Linked DNA regions of Homo sapiens. The protein of the gene in region 7 interacts with the protein of the main gene of each other region in a biochemical or structural test. Each region holds a gene or a part of one and is shown on either strand. Other genes may lie near its edges.

Region 1 (3,500 bases), on a different chromosome or scaffold from region 7:
CCTGTCAGGTTCAAGCAGTTCTCATGCCTCAGCCTCTCAAGCAGCTGGGATTACAGGCGCCTGCCACCACACCCGGCTAATTTTGTATTTTTAGTAGAGATGGAGTTTCACTGTGTTGCACTCCATACTGGGTGACAGAGCGAGATTCTGTATCAAAAAACAAAAACAAACAAAAATGAATTAGTTCTTTCCTTTAATAAACCGAATACCTTCTGTTTGTTGTACACTTTAGGATATTATTTATCTTCCTCCCCCAATCCTACAACTGTTTCATTTGACTCCCTGATGAACGTGTTATTGTGATATACTGGCATCTGAAAGAATTATGAGGGAATTAAACTATGTAACCTTTATTAATGAATGATTCTTTCACAGGCAGTCTGGGCTCTTGGCAACATTGCTGGAGATAGTACCATGTGCAGGGACTATGTCTTAGACTGCAATATCCTTCCCCCTCTTTTGCAGTAAGTTTCTTCTTCCTTCTTCCTTTTTTTTTCTTTTTGAGAATAAAAATGTAAGAGATTCCTCAGAAAGCATTACATGTTTGGAAATCATTTTGGATTTTCTAGTGTTATTTTTAATTCCAGATATTTTCTTGTTTAGATCATTTCCTCAAGCACCCTATCTTTTTCCATGCCAAAATTCTGAATTCTGAATTACTTGCATCAGAATTAATGAAGTTTTAATGTTCTGGAGAAAAGCTATCTGAAGACATCTCTTTATCAAAAGTATTATTATTTAGTATTTATGTCATCAGATAATCACTGTCTGTTACATAGTTTACCATTGTACCATCGTGCTTTTAGGTTATTTTCAAAGCAAAACCGCCTGACCATGACCCGGAATGCAGTATGGGCTTTGTCTAATCTCTGTAGAGGGAAAAGTCCACCTCCAGAATTTGCAAAGGTAAGGACTATGCTTTTGGGACATTGGCAGAAAAAATACAATTAAAAGAGTATTGCAACCAATGGTAAGGTGAACAGGAAGATAATTTTTGTTAAAATTTAAAATGTTAGAATTTTATCTGTTTTTGGAGAAACAGGGTTGTTGTTGTTTTTGTTGGTTCTCTTTATTATTTAAAAAGCAAATTTAGAGCATAGCTTGAAGGTGCACATTTACGATGGGACTGCAAATAAAGCATAGCATGAAGGAAGAATTTGTAAAGCTTATTGAAATTAGGCTTCATACAATTAGTATACTGTTTAGGAGACTATCCTTTCAGTTCTCTTAAAACAGTGGTTCTCAAAGTGTGGTCTGTGAGTTCTCTGGGAGTCCATGAGATTCTTTTTTTTTTTCCAATAGGTTTTTGGGGAACAGGTGGTGTTTAGGTACATGAGTTACTTGTTTAGTGGTGATTTCTGAGATTTTGGTGCACCCAACACCCAAGCAGTGTACGCTGTACCCAGTGTGTAGTCCTTTATCTCTCACCCACCTCCGACCCTTTCTCCCTGAGTCCCCAAAGTACATTGTATCATTCTTACGCTTTTGCGTCCTCATAGCTTAGCTCCCACTTATGAATGAGAACATCTGATGTTTGGTTTTCCAGTCCTGAGTGACTTTATCTACTTGTTGATTGATGGGCATTTGGGCTGGTTCCATGTGTTTGCAATTGTGAATTGTGCTGCTATAAACCTGCGTATACAAGTATCTTTTTCTTATAATGACCTCTTTTCCTCTGGGTAGATACCCAGGAATGGGACTGGTGCATCAAATGGTAGATATACTTTTAGTTCTTTAAGGAATCTCCACACTGTTTTCCATAGTGGTTATACTGGTTTACATTCCCAGCAACAGTGTAAAAGTGTTCCCTTTTCACCACATTCATGCCAACATCTATTTTTTGTTTTTTGGTTTTTTGAGACGGAGTTTTGCTCTTGTTGCCCAGGCTGAAGTGCAGTGGCGCGGTCTCGGCACACTGCAACCTCTGCCTCCTAGGTTCAAGTGATTCTCCTGCCTCAGCCTCCCGAGTAGCTGGGATTACAGGCGCATACCACCACACCCGGCTAATTTTTGTATTTTTAGTAGAGACGGGGTTTCACCATGTTGGCCAGGTTGGTCTTGAACTCCAGACCTCAGGTGATCCACCCACCTCAGCCTCCCAAAGTGCTGGGATTACAGGCGTGAGCCACCACGCCCAGCTGCATTTTTTAATATGTTTGTTGGCTATTTGTATATCTTCTTTTGAGAATTGTCTGTTCATGTCCTTAGCCCACTTTTTGATGGGATTTTTTTTTCTTGCTGATTTGAATTTCTTGCAGATTCTGGATATTAAAATAAATGGGTATTTTTGTAGTTGTTTTTAATTTGGAATCATTTTTCACTGAACAAAACCTTAGCATTTTTGGTCTTTAACAAAGTATCTAAAATACAGAATTTCCTAGTTTTCACATTTGTGAAAGTTCCTTTACCTGTTTAGTCCACAAAGAATGTGTTTTGATAGGGAGTCTTACTCCAAGAATTGATGTATATAAAACTTTGCTCTCTGAAATTATTTTCCTTGGGCTTTGACTACAGATTAGTGCAAGATCACTGACAACATTGCCAAAGATGGAAATGCCACTTAGGTACTTGCTGCTTCATCTTTAGAAGTGTAAATCACCCTAGAAGTCACCAAGTACATGCCTGGTTGCCTTCTTGAGTATCTCACCTCACTTCTGGCTTTTAGTCTATTGAATTTCATAATCATCATTTTCCTTTTACAGGTTTCTCCATGTCTGAATGTGCTTTCCTGGTTGCTGTTTGTCAGTGACACTGATGTACTGGCTGATGCCTGCTGGGCCCTCTCATATCTATCAGATGGACCCAATGATAAAATTCAAGCGGTCATCGATGCGGGAGTATGTAGGAGACTTGTGGAACTGCTGATGTAAGATATCTTTTAGAAAGTGTGTCCACTTTCTCTCCCTTGGTACTAGTTTTCTAGCTGCTAATACTTAAATATTAATGGATTGTACATGATAATTGATTTATTGTGCTTTGGGCTACTGTTTTTGTTACTTGTTTATTTTGATGTCAGATCTGTTTGTCTTGTTTTATTGAGGCTTATAGAGAACCTCTTAGTCCTCTGCTGTTAGCAGGCCTTTAGCAGAAACATTGGGAAAACTCTGATATGTGTAGTTCCAGGCTCATACTGGATGGCCTGAGATCAACCACCGGACATCAGAAGGCATACTGCCACTAAAATAGTCATTCCTTATCTGTCTGTCTCATTTAGAGCTTATTTTAGACAAGTATCAGAAATTCAATCTTATTTTGCTTTATCATCTCCGTGATGCTTTTGATAATGGAGTGGAAGATTTACTCGTGACATAAATAATTTGAGACTGTATTAATCAAATTTTTAGATACTACAGAAGAAAAAAATGAAAGTGATAACATAATGGAGAAATGGTACAGTTACAAGGTATGGGAGATTTAAAGTACAAAGTAGATGCAAAGAGACATTGTCGCAAACATGACATTTGGAATATATTAGATAGTTATAATGTATTAATACAAAA
Region 2 (3,500 bases), about 40 Mb from region 7:
AGCTCACTGTAGTCTCCTACTCCTGGCTAAAGCGCTCCTCCCACCTCAGCTTCCCGAGTAGGTATGAGTTGTATGCCACCACATGTGGCTACTTTTTTTTTTTTTTTTTTTTTGTAGAGATTAGGTCTTGCTTTGTTGTCCAGGTTGATCTCGATCTCCTGGCCTCAAGTGATCCTCCCACCTCAGCTTCCTAAAGTGCTGGGATTACAGGTGTGAGCCACCACGCCTGGCCCCATTTTACGTTTTAAGACTAAAATACATTTGAAAATAGCTATTGGAAATCTGCTAATGGCCTGTTCCCAGTTATGAATATGAAATGCCATCTGACTCATATGTGACAGAATTCTCATTAACTATAAGGATATACTAGTTTTTAGTATGTCAACATGTCAGCTTTTAAATGATTTATCTGCTATCATAAAGAAATAAATAATAAATGTCTTGTCCTGTATTTATTTCCTACCTTGTTTAACTGGCAAAACTCTATTCCGAAATGATTTGGCTTTCCCTGGGTCATGGCTATTTCCACTTCGGCTATATCCACCGAAGCTCGATGAAGAAAATGGCCCATCTGGCTCATCATCAAGTAGATATAGTGAAAGCCCTTCAGCAGCATCTGAAACTTACATTTTAAAAGATTTTAATACTAACATAATTATCATGTTTTCAGGAAAGTTAAACAGGCTACTTTTTGAAACCATATCTCTGTTATTTTATTCTAACACCAAAATTATAAGTTTCTCTAAGAAAATGATATGAATATTTTGAGAACAAAGGGTTGAATGTCAGAAAAACTTGTCCAATTGCTCATCATAAATTTTCAAATATTATGTTGGTAAATATATTGTAGATAAGTGCTCTGAGATATTATAGGCATCATTTAATCATAAAATTTTAAAACTAAGAGACTTTTCATGTAGTCTAATAAAGAAAAGGAATCATATGGCCTAATGTCATACTCAGGGACACAAAACTAGCAAGTAGAATTGGGAATAAAGCACAACTTTTAAAAATCTAAATCCATTGTTCTTTGCACTATAAACCATGCTGCCTCTTCTATATCCTTAATATCAGAATTAAACCGAGATGCAGAACACCAAAAACAAAAGACATATTTACCAGGAGATGAGAAAGGAGAGCTAGTCCTGGCATGAGATACTGAGGTATTCTGGTCATTTTTAGGCTGCAACTTCATTTGTTTCTGCTTCCCTTTTGGACTAGAAGTAAAAATATGTAACAACGAGCATTTTTTTTTTTCTGTTAGCAACATATTATGATAGACAGTATGATACAAAGAGGTATCAAGGTCAGGTATTAGCTGGCCAAAGAAGAAATGCCCTAAAATTCATGAAATAGATAATTTGACAGTGAAACTTCAATCATTAAAATTTAAAAAAAGTTTCTGGGATAGTAAAACCCACATAAATAGTACTTTTGATTACTAACTCTACATAGGCATAAGAGTTTAGGAAACAAACAAAAAAAGACCTCTTGGGATCTCCCCAAATTATTCATAAACTTTCACAAATTAGGTAATACATACAAAATGCTTTGAGAACAAAAAATGTTGCATCAATGTAATGATACCTAGGTGCTCCACTACTAGATAATGAACTGCTGCTGCTTCTTAGACGTTTTCTGTACCGTGGCCTTCTCCTCTTCTGACTCTGGATTGCTGACTTATATTCAGAGATGATATTTTTGATATGACTTTCAAATAAGGCAGATAATCGCAGCATCATGCTATAGATCTGAGAAGGCAGAAATTATATAGTCTTAACTAGTTTTATATTTTAAAAAAAGGTATAAACATGCCTAGACCAATATTAAGCATCATCATTACAGACAAAATATCTGTTCACTTGAAAAATTCTTCTCAAATAACTAAAGTAAGATACCATTTTCACCTAAAATAAATGTTTTTCAAATATAGTATTCAATGTTCTAAAAGGTAGGGAAAAAAAGACTCTGATACAATGCAAGAGAGAATGTAAACTGAAACAGCATTCTAAAGGACAATATGCAGTCTGTACAAAAAAACCTTAAAGATACACACATCCTTTGGCTAGTAATTTTACTTCTGGGAATTTGTCCTAAGGAAATATCACAGAATTATATACATAAAAAATATATTCAATAATGTTAAAGATATTACCTATAGCATTATTCATGTAAAATGGATAACTGGAAACAACCTAAATCCCTAGCCAAAGAACACTGGTTAGTATAACATAAAACAACCACACAACAGAATACCATTAAAAACCTTGTTTTCAAAGAGTCATGAGATACAGGAAAACATTCATAACACTTAAGTAACAAAAAATGCTTCAAAATACGAAATCCACTATTTTAAAGAATTTATAAGCATATGTAGATATATGTGTTAATGTAGAAAATCCTGGAAGTAAACAGTAACTGTAAGTAAAAATAGGTGATAGGTTTCACAGGTGATTTTTGTTTTCTTCTTTATACTTCTGTGTTTCCCAAACTTTCTATAGAAAATGTTACTCTAGCAATCAGGATCAAGGGGGAGGGGGAAGCAAGTGTAAACAAATTATGTTTGCAGAAATTAGTGGAAATGCATTTTCCATAAAGTGGAAGTAGGCAAATATATATTTACTGTGCAACTGATTAAAAGCTAATCAGATACCAGTGATTTCAAAAGAAAAACTTGATTACTATTTTTCTATTCTCAATATACTTTAAGTTCTGACAAAAATAGGGAAGATATTAAATGTGAGTATAAATAAGCAGTTACAACTTCCCAAGATGGTTCATTATTTGTTAGAATAAATGGAACATACATGTTCAGAGCTAATAAAAATATTTCACATAAATCAACACTGTCAATCACCTTTCTATTTATTAAGTCACTTATTATATTAAAGTGTACTTAAATTACTACCTCTCCTCTCCTTGTTTTTTCTCTGGTACCTATAAATATTTATTACTAAAGAGTAAAGAGACAAATAAGAGAAAGGAAAAGGTGGTTAATTTCAGAATGACTGCTAAATGTATCTTTATGCATGCCTAACAAGCAATCCATGTTTCAAAAAAGATACTGAGGACCAATTTTCAGTAACTGGTTAAAGAAAACTGCCTGATAATTAACCCAACTAATAATCATACCCTTGACTTTTTATTAGAGGTATAAGCTTTGGAGTTGTTGAATATTTGGCGAACATCCTTATAAAATTCCAGAGGACTACCATAGTTTCCTGCTTCCAAAGTTTCTTTCACAGTGCTGAAGTCCACAGGAGTATCTATAACATCTTGATAATCCTACAAAGAAGAATGTGTTATTAAATACTGTATAGCAATATTAAGGAATACAATGGGACTAAAATTGGTATCACCTACTACGATCCACCATGAAATAAACACATTGCTTTTCAATGTGCCAACTACCTCCCCACAACCCCAAAACATCTTTTGGTGGCTCATAAAAACAGCATAAGTCTGTGGGAAAGCCTTAGCCCTCACACCACAGTAATAAC
Region 3 (3,201 bases), on a different chromosome or scaffold from region 7:
TACCTGCCCATCAACAGCGCGGCCATCAAGGCCGAGTGTGAGTCACCCCAACGCCCCGCTTACTCTGTTCCTGCGGGTGGTGGGGAGAGAGCAGCAACCTTGGGGCCCAGCCTGTAGCCCCACTGGGAGTTCTGATCTCAGGGAGCCCCACGTCCTCCTCGGTGCTGACATGGCCGAGCCCAGTGAGGGCTCCCAGGTCAAGGCGCAGGCAGGGTCCCGTGCTCCCCTGGGGGTGCCCCACCCCTCACACCGTGTGGTACCCCGCAGGCACGGCGCGGCTGCCCGAAGCCTCCCAGAGCCCGCTGGTGCTGAAGCAGGCGGTACGCAAGCCGCTGGAAGCCGTGCTTCGGTATCTTGGTGAGCAGCCAGGCGTGCTGGGGGGCTCCCAATGCTGCCTGCAGGCAGCTTCTCACCCAAGCTCATGCACTGGTGCTCCCAGCCTTCTCTAGCTGGGAGCTCCTGGACAGCCCCCCAGGGCCTGGAACTGTCCTTTTGGGGTACTCTGCACCGTGCCAGGCTCAGGCAGACCCACTGGGACCCAGGCTGCTCCCTGCTCCTGGGGTCGTGATGGGGCCCAGTGCGGAGTAGCGGCCGCCCTGTCTTCTGCGGGGCCAGCCTCCTCAAGGCACACCCGGGGGCTTCCCTGCCAGTCTCGCTACCCTGTTCCCTGTGTTCTGATCGTCCCTGGGGCCTGAGGGTCTGGGGTTTAGGTGGTGCACACCCCTGCCTGTAATACCATTAAGGCAGCGTCGTACCTGCTGCCTGCAGGGAGTATACTTCCTGAGCCACGCCCACTCCACAGGGGCAGCACTCAGGCCTCTGCACGCCCTCGGCAGGGGGAGGAGCAGCCTCAGGCGGCAGGGGGTTCCTTTGCCTTTGAGCATCTGAGGACACCCGAGAACCTCAGCCGGCTACCCTGGCCCAGCTGGAAGCAGCTTGGTGGCTGGGCCAGACATTTGTGGTGGCGGTGGGGGGCCTCCTCCATTTGCTGGGCTCGAGTGGGCTTGTGCATCTGCCCTCCCGACACAGGGTGACTGTCCTGAGAAGGACATTCCAGAGTCATGAGCCAAGTGTGCTCTGAGATTCAAGTGGCTTTGGCATTGCTCCCTGTTTGGGGTTGTGGCCCCTGTCCTGTGGGAAGAGGTGGCTGGTGTCAGGGCTGGTCCTCAGCAGCTGTGTCCCTGGCCAGGCTGGCTGGATGGTTGGTTCGCTGTCTGACGAGCAGCCAGCCCTCCACCAGCAGCTCCGGGGGCCTGGACGTGGGGGCTGTTTAATAGGCGTGCTGTGCTCACGGGCCTGTGTATGGATCCTGTTGTCCCGGGGCTGAGGGGCCTGGCCCCCGCCAGGTGGTCTCCCTGCTCTCTGGAAGCCCTGGGGTGCGGGACTGGCCCGGGCACACGCCTTGCCGAGGGCTTCTGGGCTTCTGGTTCTGTGGTGACCTCCCCACTTCCAGCCCAGTCAGGATGGGGCCTCGGGTGGGGGCCGCATGGGGCTTAGTTCCTGGGGGTATCCCGGAACCATGAGGGCTGGAGCCTGGGCCTGCCTGCCCCTCCCCTGCTGGGCAGAGGCAACTCGTTCTGCCTGTGTCATTCCCGGCAGAGACCCACCCCCGCCCCCCCAAGCCTGACCCCGTGAAAAGCGTGTCCAGCGTGCTCAGCAGCCTGACGCCCGCCAAGGTGGCCCCCGTCATCAACAACGGCTCCCCCACCATCCTGGGCAAGCGCAGCTACGAGCAGCACAACGGGGTGGACGGTGAGTGGCCCCCCCGCCCGGTGAGTGTGGCCCTCCCCGCCCGGTGAGTCCGGCCCGTCCCCGCCCGGGCACCCGCCGTGCGTGCTGACGCTGTCTTCTCTCCCTCTCTCCCACCCCGGCGCTGCCAGGCAACATGAAGAAGCGCCTCTTGATGCCCAGTAGGGGTAAGGCCTGGAGCCGCGGGCGGGCGCTGCGCCGGCCCCGCCCGTGATGCCTGTGCTGTGCTGCTCTGTGTCCCCGCGGCGGGCGGCCCAGGGCCCATGCTTGGGGCAGTCCACGTGAGCCAGGCCACAGCCCAGTTCCCCACATTCCTCCCGACATCACTGGTCCCTTGGTGAAGACCCCCCGAGCCCAGGCATCTGGCCCTCGGCCCCCTGGCCCCGCCTCCTGTCAGTGGACTGTCCTGGCACGTGTGGCCCTGGCGCCCCTGCCTGCGCTGTCTGCCATCGCGCTGTGACTGCCCGCATGCTGCCAGCCTCAGCTCGTGGGGCCGCCCGTGCTGTGCCTGCAATCCTTCCGTGCGCCTGCCAGGCGGGACAGTGGGGAGGGTGGTCGGGGGTGTCTGTGTGGGCCGTGGGCAACTGAGCTTGTACACATGGGTGCCTTCTGTCGGAGGACTGGCTCAGGTGCTCTGTGCCGGTTGCTTGGAGCAGGGGCTGCGGGACCCCAGGCCCCTTGGGGAAGAGCAGATAGGACCAAGCCTAGCATGAGGAGGCCAGGTGTGTGGGGCCCGGGTGTGCAAGTGCTGGGCCTGCCAGTGTGGATGTGCCTGGAGCCCCTTCGCCAGGCGGCTTTCACTGACGGTGCTGGCCAGGGCAGCAGGGCCGGTTTGGCGACCTGGAGGTGGATATGGGTAGTGGCTGCCCAGCCCAGCCAACCCTGTCCCCTTGGGGCATTCTCTCGAGGCTGCTGGGTGTCCTGGCAGGCACGTCCTGTGGGGTCAGCACGCCGGCTGCAGCGCAGGGTGGGCCTGAGATCGGGTGCCGGGCCCCCCATCTCCACCTGTCTGGACACGCACCCCTGGCCTGTCCTTGCAGCTTCCTCCCGACATCCCTTGGCGGTGTCTGTGTCTCGGCCCCAGCCCCAGCCCTCCTTTCCTGGGGCACCCTCCCAGCCATCTGGTATTGGGGCTGCCCCCATTGCCTAGTCCTGGGCCCAGGGCCAGCCCACTCTGGGCTGGCTTTACTTGTCTGTTCCTAATGGCAGGGCGTCCCAGGAACAGCCCCATAAGAGCTGGTAGAAACAGGAGGGAGTCCTTGTCAGCAGGCATCTTCGAGCTTTTTGTTTTGTTTTGTAAAAAGCGGTTAACCAGCAAGTTACATAAAAGCTTATTTGTTCCCACTGAATTTTCCACACCTCACACGTGAGTCCCAGCCATGCAGTGCTTGTGAGGGAGCATCACCCCTTGCCGCCTGGCTGGGCGGGGCCCTGGGCTCAGAGGGGTCAGCC
Region 4 (3,500 bases), on a different chromosome or scaffold from region 7:
TGCTTCGCTACTGCGCCACATTTTAATTTTAGTAAATCCTTCTGACTCCACATTCAAAGTATCTTCAGAATCTAACAGATTTCCCTGGCTTCCTCTGCCTCCACCCACGACTAAGCTATCTTCCCCCACCTGACTTATTGCCCCCAGACTCCCGAAAACCAAACAGGTCTCCTTGCTTTCACCCTTGTTGCCCTGGGGGTCTGTTCACAACACTCGCTGGAGTGGCTGAAACACAAGACAGGCCTCTAGTGGCTTCCCACCTCGGTGAAAGCCAGAGTCCTTACCGTGGCCTCGGCTCCAGCGTTCTTGCCTCCTTGCTGCTTCTTGAACATGCCACACATCTGTCTTGGTACCTGCTAGTTATTGCCTTTGCCTGGACATTTTCTCAGATAGCTGCAAGTCTTGCTCCCTGTCTTCTCTTTGGTTTTTCTTTTTTAATTTGAGGTGGAGGCTTACTGTCGCCCAAGCTGGAGTGCGGTGGCGTGATCTTGGGTCACTGCAACCTCCACCTGCCGGGTTCAGGCAAATCTCCTGCCTCAGCCTCCCGAGTAGTGGGGACTACAGGTACGTGCCAATTCACCTGGCTAATTTTTGTATTTTTTAGTAGGTAACGGGGTTTCGCCGTGTTGGCCAGGCTGATCTTGAACTCCCAACCTCAAGTGATCTGCTCGCTCGCCTTGGCCTCCCAAAGTCCTGGGATACAGGCGTGAGCCACCACACTAGGCCTTTCCCTTTGGTTTATACTTAGATGTAGTCACCTTAGTAGAGGGGTGTCCCCGGAATAGAATTTTCCATCCCCGGCCTTCTGTCTTTCTCATTGCTGACAATAAGTAGGAAGCAAGCTAACAAGCAGCAGGCTACGGCTGCCTACAAGTGTACATAGGTATCTGCCTGTCCCCCTAACTGGGCATCAGCTCCAGGCCAGCAGGGCTTTCCCCTCTCTTTCAGTCACTGCCGTGTCCTCGCCTAAGAGAGTGTCTGGCACACAGTAGGTGCTCAGTGAGTTACTCATTGATTAAAAAGCCTGGAAAACCAGGCTGTGTCGTGAAGATAATAGGCAGCCACTGAGGTCTTACTGCATGAGAACAAGGAAAGCTCAGCTCAGTGTAGATTGCCGGACCTAAATTTTGTGGAATCGCCTTTCATACCTAAGAGGCGAGCACCGTTGCCAGCTTTGCACTTGGAGCCCCCTCTGTCATTTATTTTGTTGACTTAAAAGCTGTTTTGTGAACCCAGCATAATGGCACTTCTTAAACTTGTAGAAAAAGGGTGTTTCTTACCTGTTTATTTCAACACATCTCGTTGCCTCACCTGGAGAGGCAACTCTCCTCTGTAGAGTGAAAGACTATAATGGTGGCCATGTAGAAACTAATATTCCAGAAGGAGAGAGCTCCAAGAAGGGGATTCCAGTGAACCATATGTACACTGTGTTTGAGAGACATTAGTTCCCCACGGAGAAGGGATGGATAGTCTGTGCTTCGGGGGTCTAAGGAAGGCTTCCTGCAGGTGCTGGTACCTCCTTAGGTCTGGGGTGGTTCCTTCTAAGTTTCCTTACCCTGCCTGCATCACCTCTGCCTCTTATGACCTCTGTGCAAAGACTGGGAAGGGTCACCCCCAATGGCTGTGAACGAACCTGTTTGTGATTCTAAACAGGGCACGGGACCATCCTACAATAAAAATTACCCAGCCTAAAATGCCAGTAGTGCCAGTAGTCCCTGTTTAGAAAAAGAAAAAAAAAAAGCAACTTTTGCCTCACAACAGAGGCCCTCTTGTGTGCTGCCAGGCAGCCAGCAGATTTGCTATGCAGGCAAGTTTGGGGCCTGGTTTTTAAAGTATCCAGTTCCTAGATTCCAGAACTAAAATACACATTTGGAAAAATGATGTCTATAAAATTGAGTTTCCGGGAGTGCAAGGTTTATAGCAATTTGACACTGCTGGGAACCCAGGCGCAGTATCAGTGGACTTTTCTCCTTGAACAGGGGGCAGACCAAGTGGGGGGTTGGGGAGGGTATTGGGCTCACTCTTGGTTTCCCTTGGTGTGAGCTGCCACCATTCACATGCAGAGGACTCACCTGTGTTTCCTGCGGGTTGGGGGTAATGGTGGCATGACAGAGGGCTTGAGGACTGACCTAGCTGCTTCTCCGGAATTGGACGCCTGCTGACTACCTGCGTGTATCCAGATGGCCATTGGCCTGTGGGGGTGCAGGATGGAGGCCCTGCCCACATGGAGCTCACTGTCCTGGGTGGGAGTGAAATAAACTCTAGGTGGCAGAAGGAAGTGGTGCGTTGGATTATCACCTGGGTGCAAACGAGCTGGCAGCAGCGCCTGCCAGGTGCAGAGCCAGGAACCTCTAGGCCTTCAGTCTGACCACCTGATGGCAGGGGAAGCAGAGGGTGGTGGGGGGCCTTCATCTCAGGAGAATCTGAGTGGCTGCAGGTGCCAGTCAGGACGCTGGGCTTCTGCAGATGGGACCACATCTGGGAGGACCGAAGGGCCGGGTGCTTATGGGCTGTTACTGTGGCACTGAGCGTGAGGGGAGTGGACAGGACCCAGGCTGAGAAGTGCTGGTGTGCAGTGGTGGCAGGTGGCTCACACAGCCCTACCATAGCGCAGCCCTGCTCTGAAGGCCACTGGAGCCATTCAGAGGTCTCACAGACAAGTAATCAGATCCAGCCTACGGTAAGGAGAAGTTCTGTATCTGAGATCTGAGGCAGGGAAGCCAATTAGGAAGCTGCTCAAAGATGAAGGCGGCGTCAGCGCAGGTTCCGTTGCGTGGTGCAGCCATCTCTGGCTCTCACGTTTCCCACACATGTTCACTAAGCCCCTGTCTTGGCAAGCCATACCCTAAGCCACAGAGGACCAGGATTAAAATCAGTGATTTTCAGGGAGGGGTAATTTCCCCCACCTCATTCCCCTGAGGGATATCTGGCAACGTTTGCAGACATTTTTGTGCCACTGGTATCTGAAGTCAGGGTTGTGGCCAAACATCCGACAAGGTACATGGCCGTCCTTCCACAAAGAACTGTCCAGCCCCAAATGCCAGGGGTACCAAGGTTGAAAACTCTGGTAAAGAACCTTCGAAGGCACCAGGTTAAGTGCTTCAAAAGAACAATGCCCTGGGTGCTCTGGGAATGTGAGGGAGGAGCCAGCTGTGCCACAGAGCGGGGACAGCTGCTGGAGAAGTGCCACATTTGAGTTGGGTCTTGAAGGATGAATAAGAGTTCTCCAGGAGGAGCGTTGAGACACACGGCAGAGGTGGGGAGAAACCAGGCAGGAAACAGCATGTGTACCTGGGTCCTCTCAGCCCCACTGTGGCCTCCTGTGTGTTGCTTTTGGTACATTTCTTGCCCTGTTGGAGGTAACGGGAGGGATACTGAAGCCATCTTTGAGGTAAGAGAAGAGGTTTAGCCTCATGCGTAAGACTACTGGAGAGATGGCCTTGCCCAAGAGTAGTTGGAGATGCTTCTTTGGAGAGTGACCTCCACCTTCTGCAAGGCCC
Region 5 (3,500 bases), on a different chromosome or scaffold from region 7:
AGGAGACCATGTTAGGATTATGAACAAAAACATTTTTTTTAAAGATGGTGAACAAATTCAGTGTTCTGTCCTAGCCTCAAGAAGGAAACTGGCTTTAGGAAAAGCAACCAAAAAGTGATGATATATTTTGTTAATTGTACCTAGTCATATATTGCAACTAAAAATTTTGGGGAAAATTATACAGGAAGGAGACCAAGTAGTATAGTTAATGATGAAAACTGGCTTATAAAAAAAGAGTTTCCTGAATTTAAGGAAAAATATTTTTGTTATTTCTCCTGTGAAACTAAACTGTTTCTCACTTTTTCTTCCCTCAATTCTACATATATTTATTTTGCAATTTTTGTTCTTTGTTTTCATGCATTAAAAGAGTAGTTCTCATTTGGAATGGTACTGATCTCAAAGGGAATGTTTAGGAATAAAGCGTGGGGCAATTTTGGTTGTCACTATGGGGGAAGAGAACTATCTACTAGCATGTAGTCAGCAAGGACCAGAGTTTCTAAACCTCCTGCAGTACACAGGTCAGTGTGCACAGTGGACTAGTTGTCCCACCTAAAATGCCAGTTATGCCTCTGTTGTGCAACATTCCAACAAAATGTCTCCTTATAAAGAAATTGATATTTAAAGAGTTGAAGTTTGAAAAACAATTAAAATATGCCTGCTTTGCTAGCTATGGTGAAATGATAATATAGTAAACACACCATGATCATTTCTGTGTATATTTGTTTTTGTTGTTGTTTTTGAGACAGGGTCTCGCATTGTCACCCAGGCTGTAGTGCAGTGGTACAGTCACAGCTCACTGCAGACTGGATCTCCCAGGCTTAAGTGATCCTCCTGCCTCAGACTCCTGAGCAGCTAGGACTATAGGCATGAGCCACCATGCCCACCTAATTTTTTATTTTTTGTAGAGACGGGGTCTCGCTATGCTGCCCAGGCTGGTCTTGAACTCCTGGGCTCAAGTGATCCTCCTGCCTTAGCTCCCAAAATACAAGGATTACAGGCATGAGCCACTGTGTGTGGCCATCATTTTCGAAATATTCTTTTTAGAGGTCATATGTAAAAAGAGAGGGGCTATTCTTGGAGATTTCTAGCTACCCATACTCTTTGAGTGGAAGGCAAAAACTATTGGTTATCTTTAGACAAAGACAAGCATACCTACTAAATGAATTTGTTTACTAAAATTTAGAAATAAAATTTGAATAGAAATATAAATGTAACTTCCAAATTAGTAGAGGGTAAAAAACTAATAAAACATGATCAATCCCATAGAAGCAGAGAAGGGAAGGAAAAAAGATAATTATTTAAAAGAACAGGTAAATTAGGAAGCACAAAACTAGTCATATACTGCAACTAAAAAGTTGGAGAAAATTATACAGGAAGGAGACCAAGTTGTATAGTTCATGATGAAAACTAGCTTACAAAATAAATTTCCTTAATTTCAGGAAAAATATTTTTTGTTATTTCACAAAGCATAAAACTAGTAGGCAGATAACCTAAGCTTTAATCCAAATATTAATAACTGTGATAAACGTATATGGGCTAAACTGTCCAGTTAAAAATAGACAGTGTTAGATTAGATTAAAAATAAAACAGAACTGTATTTTCTTTGTAAGGGACACAGTTAAAACATACAAACCTAGAAAAGTTGAAAGTAAAAGGATGAGAAAAAACAAACAATTATACGTCAAAGACAAAACAGTTGTGGCTACATTAATAGCAAACAAAATAAAGTTTAAGACAAAAAGCATTACTGATAAAAAGGTACTATAACAAAAGATTAATTTCACTAAAATATAAAAGCTTGTATGCGCCTAAAAACATAGCATAAAACTATAAAAAGTAAAAGTGGACAGAATTACAAGAAAGAAGTGAGAAATCTCCATCTCAGTGGAAAATATTAACAGCATTCTCTCATTTACTTATCTAGATAAGATAGACAAAAATGGGCCGGGCATGGTGGCTCACGCCTGTAATCCCAGCACTTTGGGAGGCTGAGGTGGGCAGATCACTTGCGGTCAGGAGACCAGCCTGGCCAACATGGTGAAACTCCATCTCTACTAAAAATACAAAAATTAGGCCACGTGTGGTGGCTCACACCTGTAATCCCAGCACTTCGGAAGGCCGAGGTGGGTGGATCACCTGAGGTCAGGAGTTTGAGACCAGCCTGGCCAGCACGCAGAAACCCCATCTCTACTAAAAATACAAAAATTAGCCAGGCGTGGTGGCTGGCACCTGTAATCCCAGCTACTTGGGAGGCTGAGGCAGGAGAATCACTTGAACCCAGGAGGTAGAGGTTGCCGTGAGCCGAGGTTGTGCCACTGTACTCCAGCCTGGGCCACAGAGTCAGACTCTGTCTCAAAACAATAACAACAGCAACAACAAAAATAAATAAAACACAAAAATTAGCAGGGCCTAGTGGCACACGCCTGTAATCCCAGCTACTGAGGCAGGAGAATCGCTTGAACCTGGGAGGCAGAGGTGGCAGTGGGCCAGCCTGGGTGACAGAGTGAGATTCTGTCTCAAAAAAGAAAAATAACAACAACAACAAACAAAAATGGATAAGGCTGTGGAAGATTTAAATATTATTAATAAGCTTGATGTATTACACATATTTAGATTTCTGCTACCAACAACTAGTGAAAACATCCTCTGAAGCAAACTTAGAACCAGTACAAAAATTGAGCATGTACTGAACTACAAAGTAGGTTTCAGCTGGTACCAAAGAACTATTATCACACAAACCATTTTCCCTGTTCTTAGTATCATTTAGTTATTAATTAAAAATTCTCATGTTTAGAGACTTATAAACTCACTTTTAAATAATTTATGGATCAAAGAAGAAATCATACTGAAGACAGGTTGAAAATTGATGAACTAAGCATCTTACTCAAAAAACTGGAAAAAAGTAAAAGGATAAACCCGATGAAAGTAGATGTATGGAAATGATAAGTGTAAAAGCATAAAATTGATGATGTCAAAAATGAAAATATAATAGAGGATTTTTAAAAGCCTGCTCTTTGAAAAAAGCTAATTGAATAGGCAATTCTCTGGCAAGATTCATCAAGAGAAAAAAGACATAAATAACTAATATCAGCAATAAAAAGGAGACAACAATATAGAAGAAGATGATAGATGAGCTTTATCCCTATATACTTGAAAACTTTGATGAAATAGCCAGTTTACTAAAAAAATACACCTTAGCAAAACTGGCCAAGGAAGAAATAGAAAACCTGAAATAGACCTATTACTAGGACTAATATTTAGCCAATATGTACTGGTTCAGCTGAAGTACTGTTAAAAGATTGAACTTCTTCCATACCAATTCGTAAATAGGCACTGCCCTGAGTTACCCTCTGACACCCTCTGACTACCCAGGCCCCTCTTCTAGAGATACCTCCCACAAAACCTTCCCATGATTCAGCAGCAAAAGTCCCCCTTACACAATATGGCGATTCCAGGACCCTGTTCCAGCACAGCCATCTGCATCTATTCTGACTGGCAAG
Region 6 (3,500 bases), on a different chromosome or scaffold from region 7:
CTCCTGCCTCAGCCTCCTGTGTAGCTGGAGTCCCCGCCACCATGCCCAGCTAATTTTTGTATTTTTAGTAGAGATGGAGTTTCACTATGTTGGCCAGGCTGGTCTCGAACTCCTGACCTTGTGACCTCCCTGCCTCAGCCTCCCAAAGTGCTGGTATTACAGGCGTGAGCCACTGCACCCGGCCAGTTTGTTCCTCTTTTACTTTGTTTAGTGTATTCTTATTCTTCAAGGCTCATACCAATTGTTGCTCCATTAATTATTTTAACATATTTATGAGCGCTTAACTGTCCCTTCTCCTAGGTGCTGGGAATACAGCAAGGAATTAGACCAGTTCCCTGCTCTCTGGTATGGTGGGACAGATACTAAAAAGGTAAACAACTTAATTTCAGGAAGAGATAAAGACCATTAATAATATAGGGTGTATCAGTAAATTCATGTGGGCAGACGTAAGGTGCCTGGGGAAGATTTCTGAGGAGGTACTATTTTAGCTGAGACTTGAATGATGAAACAGAGGCAGATCTTTCAGCACTTAAATAATGTTGTTCCACTTCTTTCTAACTTCCATGGTTTCTGATGAGAAATCTACAGACATTTGAATTGTTGCACCTCTATAGGTGATACGTGGTTTCTATCTGGTTACTTTAGAGGTTTTTACTGTATATCTTTTAGTTTTTTCCATTTTAGCTATGATGTGCCTGGGCATGGATTTCTTTGGATTTATCATATTTGAGGGTCTCTGAACTTCCTGAATTTGGGGGGTCTCTGAACCTTTTGAATTGGAGTTTATATCTTTAGCCAAATTTGGGAAATTTCCTTCCTCCTTCCCTTGCTTCCTTCCTCTCTCCCTTCCTTTCTTCTTTCCTTCCTTTCTTTCATCTTTCTTTTTTTCCCCTTCCTTCCTTTCTTTCTTTCTTTTTTTCTTTCTTTTGACAGAGTCTCACTGCATTGCCCAGGCTGGAGTGCAGTGGCATGATCTCAGCTCACTTCAGCCTCTGCTTCCCAGGCTCAAGTGATCCTCCCACCTCAGCCTCCTGAGTAGCTGTGACTACAAGTGCACACCACTGTGCCCGGCTACTTTTTGTATTTTTAGTAGAGATGGGGTTTTGCCATGATGCCCAGGCTGGTCTTGAACTCCTGGGCTCAAGCAATTTGCCCATCTCAGCCTCCCAAAGTTCTGGGATTATGGATGTGTGCCACCACCACCAACTATTACAGCCATTATTTCTTAATTTTTTTTTTTTTTCTTAGCATTCTACTCCTCAAGATCAGGGTGTTACAACTTTTGATATTTTCCCTAGGGCCCTGAGGCTTTACTGACTTTTTTTCAGTCTTTTTATTTTTTCCCTCTTTTGTTCACATTGGGTAATGTATACTAATCTATCTTCAGGGTGACTGACTCATTTCTCTGATGACTTCATTCTGCCCTTGAGCCCATCAGTGAGTTTTTTATTCTTTTTCAGAATTGTTTTTAAATTTTTAAAAGATATTTTACTAGAGTCTATGGAAGCTAGAAGAGTTTTGTATGCTGGTTATTGCTTTTTCAGCTCTAAACTTCTTATCTGGATCTTTAAGAAATATCTTCTGTTTCTTAGCTGAGACTTTGTTTTTCCATCATTTCAAGAGTGTTTGTGATTACTTATTGGAACATTTTTATAATAGGTACTTCAAAATCTGTCTCAGAGAATTCCAACTTTTGTAGCATCTCAACATTGGTGTCTGTCAATTGTCTTTTCTAGATTGAGTTTTTTCCTAGTACTTCATATGCTGAATGATTTTGGATTGTTTCCTAGACATTTTGAATATTATAAGATGATAGGGCTTGTTTAAATCCTAAGAGGATGTTGGTGATTTTTGGCTTGGTAGGCAATCTACCTAATTAGCTTCAGGGAATTTGCAATTTGTAACTCTCTTTAGGCTATGGTTCTAATGGCAGATGAATTTTCAGAAAGTCTTTGCAGTGCTATTTGGATCTGTCCCATGTATGTGACATTCAGTGGCCAGTCTGCAATCTGGGTGTTGATTATTTCAGTTCTCAAAGCCTTTAGTATGATTTGGACCAGATCCACACGTGTGCAGCTTGGGAGTTCATGAACAACTTCATGATGTTACTTTTCTGAGCTCCTCCCCATCTGATATCTCCCCAGTACCTTCTGGTTCCACTGGGGTCTCCCTTTTGATCCTCTGATGACAAAATTGGGGCTTTAATTATCCTTCCTTGCAACACACTTGCTCTTCAAGCAGCAGGAGAACCAGGGGAGACAATGTTAACCTCACTGCCCATTCAGTGGTACTTTATTGTTAGCCAATTGGTTTTTCTCATATGCCTGTCTTATGCATTCTGTCTAGGTTTTATAGCTGCATTTTTAGTGGGAGAGAGAAGGTGGTGTTTGATTATTCCATCTTATCTGGCAACAGCTTTATAACTTAAGTTTTTCACTAAATGCCGTTGACTTTTATGGCCTGTGATTTAACTTTGATTTGAATCAAGGTATAATAAAACAATTAGAAGACTTTGCCATATAATAGATGCCCCATAAATATTAAAACATATTTTTATTGTGATTTTAAAATAGCCTAACATTTACCGTCTTAACTGATTGTAAGTGTACAGTTCAGTAGTATTAAGTATATTCACATTGTGAAATTGATCTCGAGAAGTTTTTCATCTTGAAAATCTGAAAAGTCTAACCCATTCAACAGCACCTTCTCTTTCCCCTCCTGCTAGTCCCTGGTGACCACCATTCTTCTTTGTTTCTGTGAATTTGATTCCTTTTTCTTTTTTTAATGATAAGTATTTTACATTAATTTTTTTTTTTTTTTTTTTTTTTTAGAGATTGGGTCTTGCTCTGTTGCCCAAGCTAGACTCAAACTCCTGGGCTCAAGTGGTCCACCTCAGCCTCCCAAGTAGCTGGGATTACAGGTGTGTGCTATGGCACCTGGCTGTTAAATTTGATTACGTTTGATACTTCATTTAAGTGGAATCATACAGTATTTGTCTGTTTGTGATTGGCTTATTTGACTTCACATAATGTCCTCAAGTTTCAGTGATGTAGCATATGTCAGAATTTTCTTCCTTTTGAAGGCCGAGTAATATTCCTTTGTGTGTATATACCATATTTTGTTTATCCACTCATCCATCAGTGAACTTTTGGGTTGCTTCCATCTCTTGACTACTATGAATAGCGCTGATATGAACATGGGTGTGCAAATATCTCTTAGAAATCCTGCTTTCAGTTATTTTGGATTTATACCCAGAAGTAGAATTGTTGGATCTTATGGTAGTTCTAATTTTCTTCAAGGAACCTTCATACTGTTTTCCTTAGTAGCTGTACTATTTTTCAGTTCCACCAACAATGCACAAGGGTTCAACTTCCTCTATGTCCTCAATGAAACTTGTCATTTTCTTTTTTTAAAAAAAGCAGTCGTTCTAATGGGTGTGAGGTGATATCCCATTGTAGTTTTGATTTACATTTCTCTGATGATTAGTGATGTTGAGCATC
Region 7 (3,500 bases):
CAGAATTCTGGATCATAAACTCTACCTATAAATTTTTACATATGATTCTACCCTGTCACATTTGACAGGGCCACTTCCAGGATCTTTTGGACTTGACATTTTCTGAATGATTTATGGGGAGGAAAACAATAATGTAAAAAACTATCTTTGTAGGTTCCTGAATATCTACATCATGTTAACAAACGTCTAGAAGAAGAAGCAGACAGACTTATTACTTACTTAGATCAGACCACCCAGTAAGTACCACATGCTGAATTTAATAGTCTTAAACTGTCGTTAAATCACTTGCAGCACTTTAGCCATCCTAAACATGTTAGTAACTGTTTTCAGGTGTGATTTGAAGTGTTAACAGTTGTTTTCATAATACAAACTTCAAGTTATTCTTTTCCCTAGTTAATTAGTTTTCATCCAAGGATTCGATTATTAGGGGTGTGTGTGTGTGTGTGTGTGTGTGTGTGTGTGTGTGTTTAGAAGGTAATTTAGAAATAATACTAGAGGCTGATGTGACCTTTAAACTCTTCAGGCCAATTAAAATTCAGTGGATTCCCCTATTTCTGTGCTTTCCTAAGTATTAATATTGCCAGTCGAGGGGCCTCTGTATGTAGTACTTCTTTACCTTCCTAATAAAAGTAGCAAAACTTGGAAAAAGCCGACTACAGCAAGGTCTTGGAGATATTTATTTCGTTATGTAAACCAAATTCTAAAATATGCAGTGTTTTTTTAAAATTTTTGCCTGTCAGTTCCTTTATGTCTTTTTCTTTTAGGCATAAAGTATAGTAACTCTGAGCACCAATAAATTTATACATAGGATAGGAATCTTGAAATCAACATAAAATGAGCTATTTGATTTTTTTCCCCCCTCAGGAGAGGCTTTACATTTTCTGGAAGTCAAACGTCAATAATACTAACCTTTTTTTTTTTCCTTGTAGGAAGTCATTAATTGCTACTGTAGAAAAACAACTTCTAGGTGAACACTTAACAGCAATTCTTCAGAAAGGTAATTGGCAATTTGTAAATAAGAGATTGCTTTTTAAATGGTAGTGGCAAACTAGTAGGGAATTTTTAAAGATGTTGCCCTTTTAAAAGTTTGATAGCATGTGGCTGCATTTCTGAGGATGGACACAATCCTTATTAATCACAGTAAACTTCCTGGAGGTGCCAGTTTTCTTATCTGAAAGATACAGGAACTAGAAGAGAGGGATCCACAAATACCAATAAAAAAACAGTGGTTGATATGTGCCTGTAGTATCAGCTACTTGAGAGGCTGAGGCAGGAGGATTGCTTCAGCCCAGGAGTTTGAGGTCAGCCTGGGCAACATAGTGAGACTCTCGTCTCTTTAAATAAAATAAAAGAAAAAAAGTGGGAAATTCTTGACTTAATATGTAAGCTTTCAGTAAGGAAAGGTATTCCTTTTTACACTAAAGCGGTGAGGGTTTTTTGTTGTTCATGGCATGTCAAACCAAGCACTTCTAATCCCAAGTGAATTTAGAGTATACCCTACATTTTACTTTGAGAATGCCGCAAATAGGTAAAAGCCTTACCTTTCTCCCCAATAATATTTTCTTTTGTATAAAAATTTATATATTTAGAAATTTAATGCAGTTATACTGTTATTTCATCCTGGAAATCAAATATTTATTAGAGCCTCATTTAAATTTGACCTATTTATGCATGGCTTTTGATATATCACAGGCTATATCCAGTATTCTGAAATATAACTATGTACATAATATGGCTACTACATATATGAGGTATTTATAATGTATATTTATGTAAGCCAGTTTTTATAAGTTTGTTTTTGCCTCTAATCTATCATGCTAAATGGCACAAACCATTATGGAGTTAACCATTTTTCTTTTTCTTTTTAATTTTTTTAACTTTTTGAATTAAAATAGAGAGGGGGAGGGGGTCTTACTGTTGTGCCCAGGCTGGTCTTGACCTCCTGGCTTCAATTGATCCTCCTGCCTCAGCCTCCCAAAGTGCTGGGATTACAGGTGTGAGCCACCGTGCCTGGCCTGTTTTTATTTTTATAGCGACTAAAGTCTCTATATTTAGTTTTTACCCAGAAAGATGGTTGGGTTTAATTCAAAGGAAATCTTACATTACAACTCACATACAGACTAGTCATAGTTCAAACCAGTATCACAATAATGATTATAACTCAAATTTTATTAAAATGTCTGATAATCTTGTTCACTTTTTTGTTCACTATATTTTAATGCCAAAATGTTTTAAAATACAGGTTTAAATAACCTCCTTGATGAAAACCGAATTCAAGATTTGTCTCTTCTGTATCAGCTCTTCAGTAGAGTTCGAGGTGGAGTTCAGGTTCTTTTGCAGCAGTGGATCGAATATATCAAGGTATTAACAATTTACCTGTGATTTTTCTCTCTTATGGCTTATCTACACATCAAGAGTGCATATTGGCAAGCATTTCTTGTTTGATCCAATTTTTTTTTTTTTGAGACAGAGTTTTGCTCTCGTCACCCAGGCTGGAGTGCGGTGGCACGATCTTAGCTCGCTGCAACCTCTGCCTCCCAGGTTCAAGTGATTCTCCTGCCTCAGCCTCCCAAGTAGCTAGGATTACAGGCATGCACCACCATGCCTGGCTAATTTTGTATTTTTAGTAGAGACGGGGTTTCACCATGTTGGTCAGGCTGGCCTTGAACTCCTGAACTCAAATGATCCACCCGCCTTGGCCTCCCAAAGTGCTGGGATTACAGGCGTGAGCCACCACACCCGGACTTGATCCAGTTCTTTTAAGGGAATTTTAAATTTGTTTAAAAAGTAATGGGAATTTTGAGAACAGTCAACCTGAGAATGGTAGCTGTGTGGCATATCAGCTATAAAACCTGATTGATGGCTGACATAATTTCTGTCTCTACCACTTAAAGCAGTAAATGTAGAAAAAGACTTTGAACCCCAAATTTCTTTCCTTTCTTCAATCTTACACTAAAGCCAGATTGCCATTTTAAGGAAGTTGAAAGCTGACTTCTTTAAAAATAAGGAAAAGATCCCAGAGGCTTCTAATAATACCCTGTTATGATATCATATGCCCAGTGATCATTGCTTACTATTTTTGTGATTATAGATGAGTGGTTAACAGTGTGGATATTTAGCACTTTATTTTTTTGTCCTCATTTCACTATCAGCTTTATTTTGCCAGGTGCAGTGGTACATGCCTGTAACTCCAGCTACTTGGGAGGCTGAGGCAGGAGGATCCTTTCAGCCTAGGAGTTTCAGACTAGCCTGGGCAACATAGCAAGATTCCATCTTAAAAATAGCTTTATCTTACTTTTTAAAGATCTTTAAATATATATGCCACTTAAAATATGATTTGGGGATTGTTTTCATTGTAGACAATTCGATTACAGTAAAAAGTGGTAATTTTTTGTTTTAGGCATTTGGCAGCACTATTGTAATTAATCCTGAAAAAGATAAAACCATGGTTCAAGAATTGCTGGATTTTAAAGATAAGGTTGACCATATAATTGATATCT

The links.
Region 1: the proteins of CUL4B (region 7) and KPNA1 form a complex in vitro, tested with the Homo sapiens proteins (one study listed by BioGRID).
Region 2: the proteins of CUL4B (region 7) and BRWD3 form a complex in vitro, tested with the Homo sapiens proteins (one study listed by BioGRID).
Region 3: the proteins of CUL4B (region 7) and MTA1 form a complex in vitro, tested with the Homo sapiens proteins (one study listed by BioGRID).
Region 4: the proteins of CUL4B (region 7) and WDR1 form a complex in vitro, tested with the Homo sapiens proteins (one study listed by BioGRID).
Region 5: the proteins of CUL4B (region 7) and DCAF10 form a complex in vitro, tested with the Homo sapiens proteins (one study listed by BioGRID).
Region 6: the proteins of CUL4B (region 7) and DET1 form a complex in vitro, tested with the Homo sapiens proteins (one study listed by BioGRID).

The regions. Positions count from the first base shown.
Region 1 is NC_000003.12:122,448,940-122,452,439, reverse strand, and holds part of KPNA1 (importin subunit alpha-5), read left to right. Parts: intron 1-375; coding exon 376-464; intron 465-806; coding exon 807-906; intron 907-2,702; coding exon 2,703-2,866; intron 2,867-3,500. UniProt on the Homo sapiens protein: Functions in nuclear protein import as an adapter protein for nuclear receptor KPNB1. Binds specifically and directly to substrates containing either a simple or bipartite NLS motif.
Region 2 is NC_000023.11:80,680,878-80,684,377, forward strand, and holds part of BRWD3 (bromodomain and WD repeat-containing protein 3), read right to left. Parts: intron 3,286-3,500; coding exon 3,133-3,285; intron 1,752-3,132; coding exon 1,588-1,751; intron 1,218-1,587; coding exon 1,120-1,217; intron 623-1,119; coding exon 464-622; intron 1-463. UniProt on the Homo sapiens protein: Plays a role in the regulation of cell morphology and cytoskeletal organization. Required in the control of cell shape.
Region 3 is NC_000014.9:105,464,827-105,468,027, forward strand, and holds part of MTA1 (metastasis-associated protein MTA1), read left to right. Parts: coding exon 1-37; intron 38-267; coding exon 268-357; intron 358-1,599; coding exon 1,600-1,752; intron 1,753-1,880; coding exon 1,881-1,916; intron 1,917-3,201. UniProt on the Homo sapiens protein: Transcriptional coregulator which can act as both a transcriptional corepressor and coactivator. Acts as a component of the histone deacetylase NuRD complex which participates in the remodeling of chromatin.
Region 4 is NC_000004.12:10,110,300-10,113,799, reverse strand, and holds part of WDR1 (WD repeat-containing protein 1), read left to right. Parts: intron 1-3,500.
Region 5 is NC_000009.12:37,842,297-37,845,796, forward strand, and holds part of DCAF10 (DDB1- and CUL4-associated factor 10), read left to right. Parts: intron 1-3,500. UniProt on the Homo sapiens protein: May function as a substrate receptor for CUL4-DDB1 E3 ubiquitin-protein ligase complex.
Region 6 is NC_000015.10:88,533,182-88,536,681, reverse strand, and holds part of DET1 (DET1 homolog), read left to right. Parts: intron 1-300; exon of another isoform or gene 301-347; coding exon of another isoform or gene 348-370; intron 371-3,500. UniProt on the Homo sapiens protein: Component of the E3 ubiquitin ligase DCX DET1-COP1 complex, which is required for ubiquitination and subsequent degradation of target proteins. The complex is involved in JUN ubiquitination and degradation.
Region 7 is NC_000023.11:120,540,463-120,543,962, reverse strand, and holds part of CUL4B (cullin-4B), read left to right. Parts: intron 1-153; coding exon 154-236; intron 237-929; coding exon 930-997; intron 998-2,242; coding exon 2,243-2,361; intron 2,362-3,400; coding exon 3,401-3,500.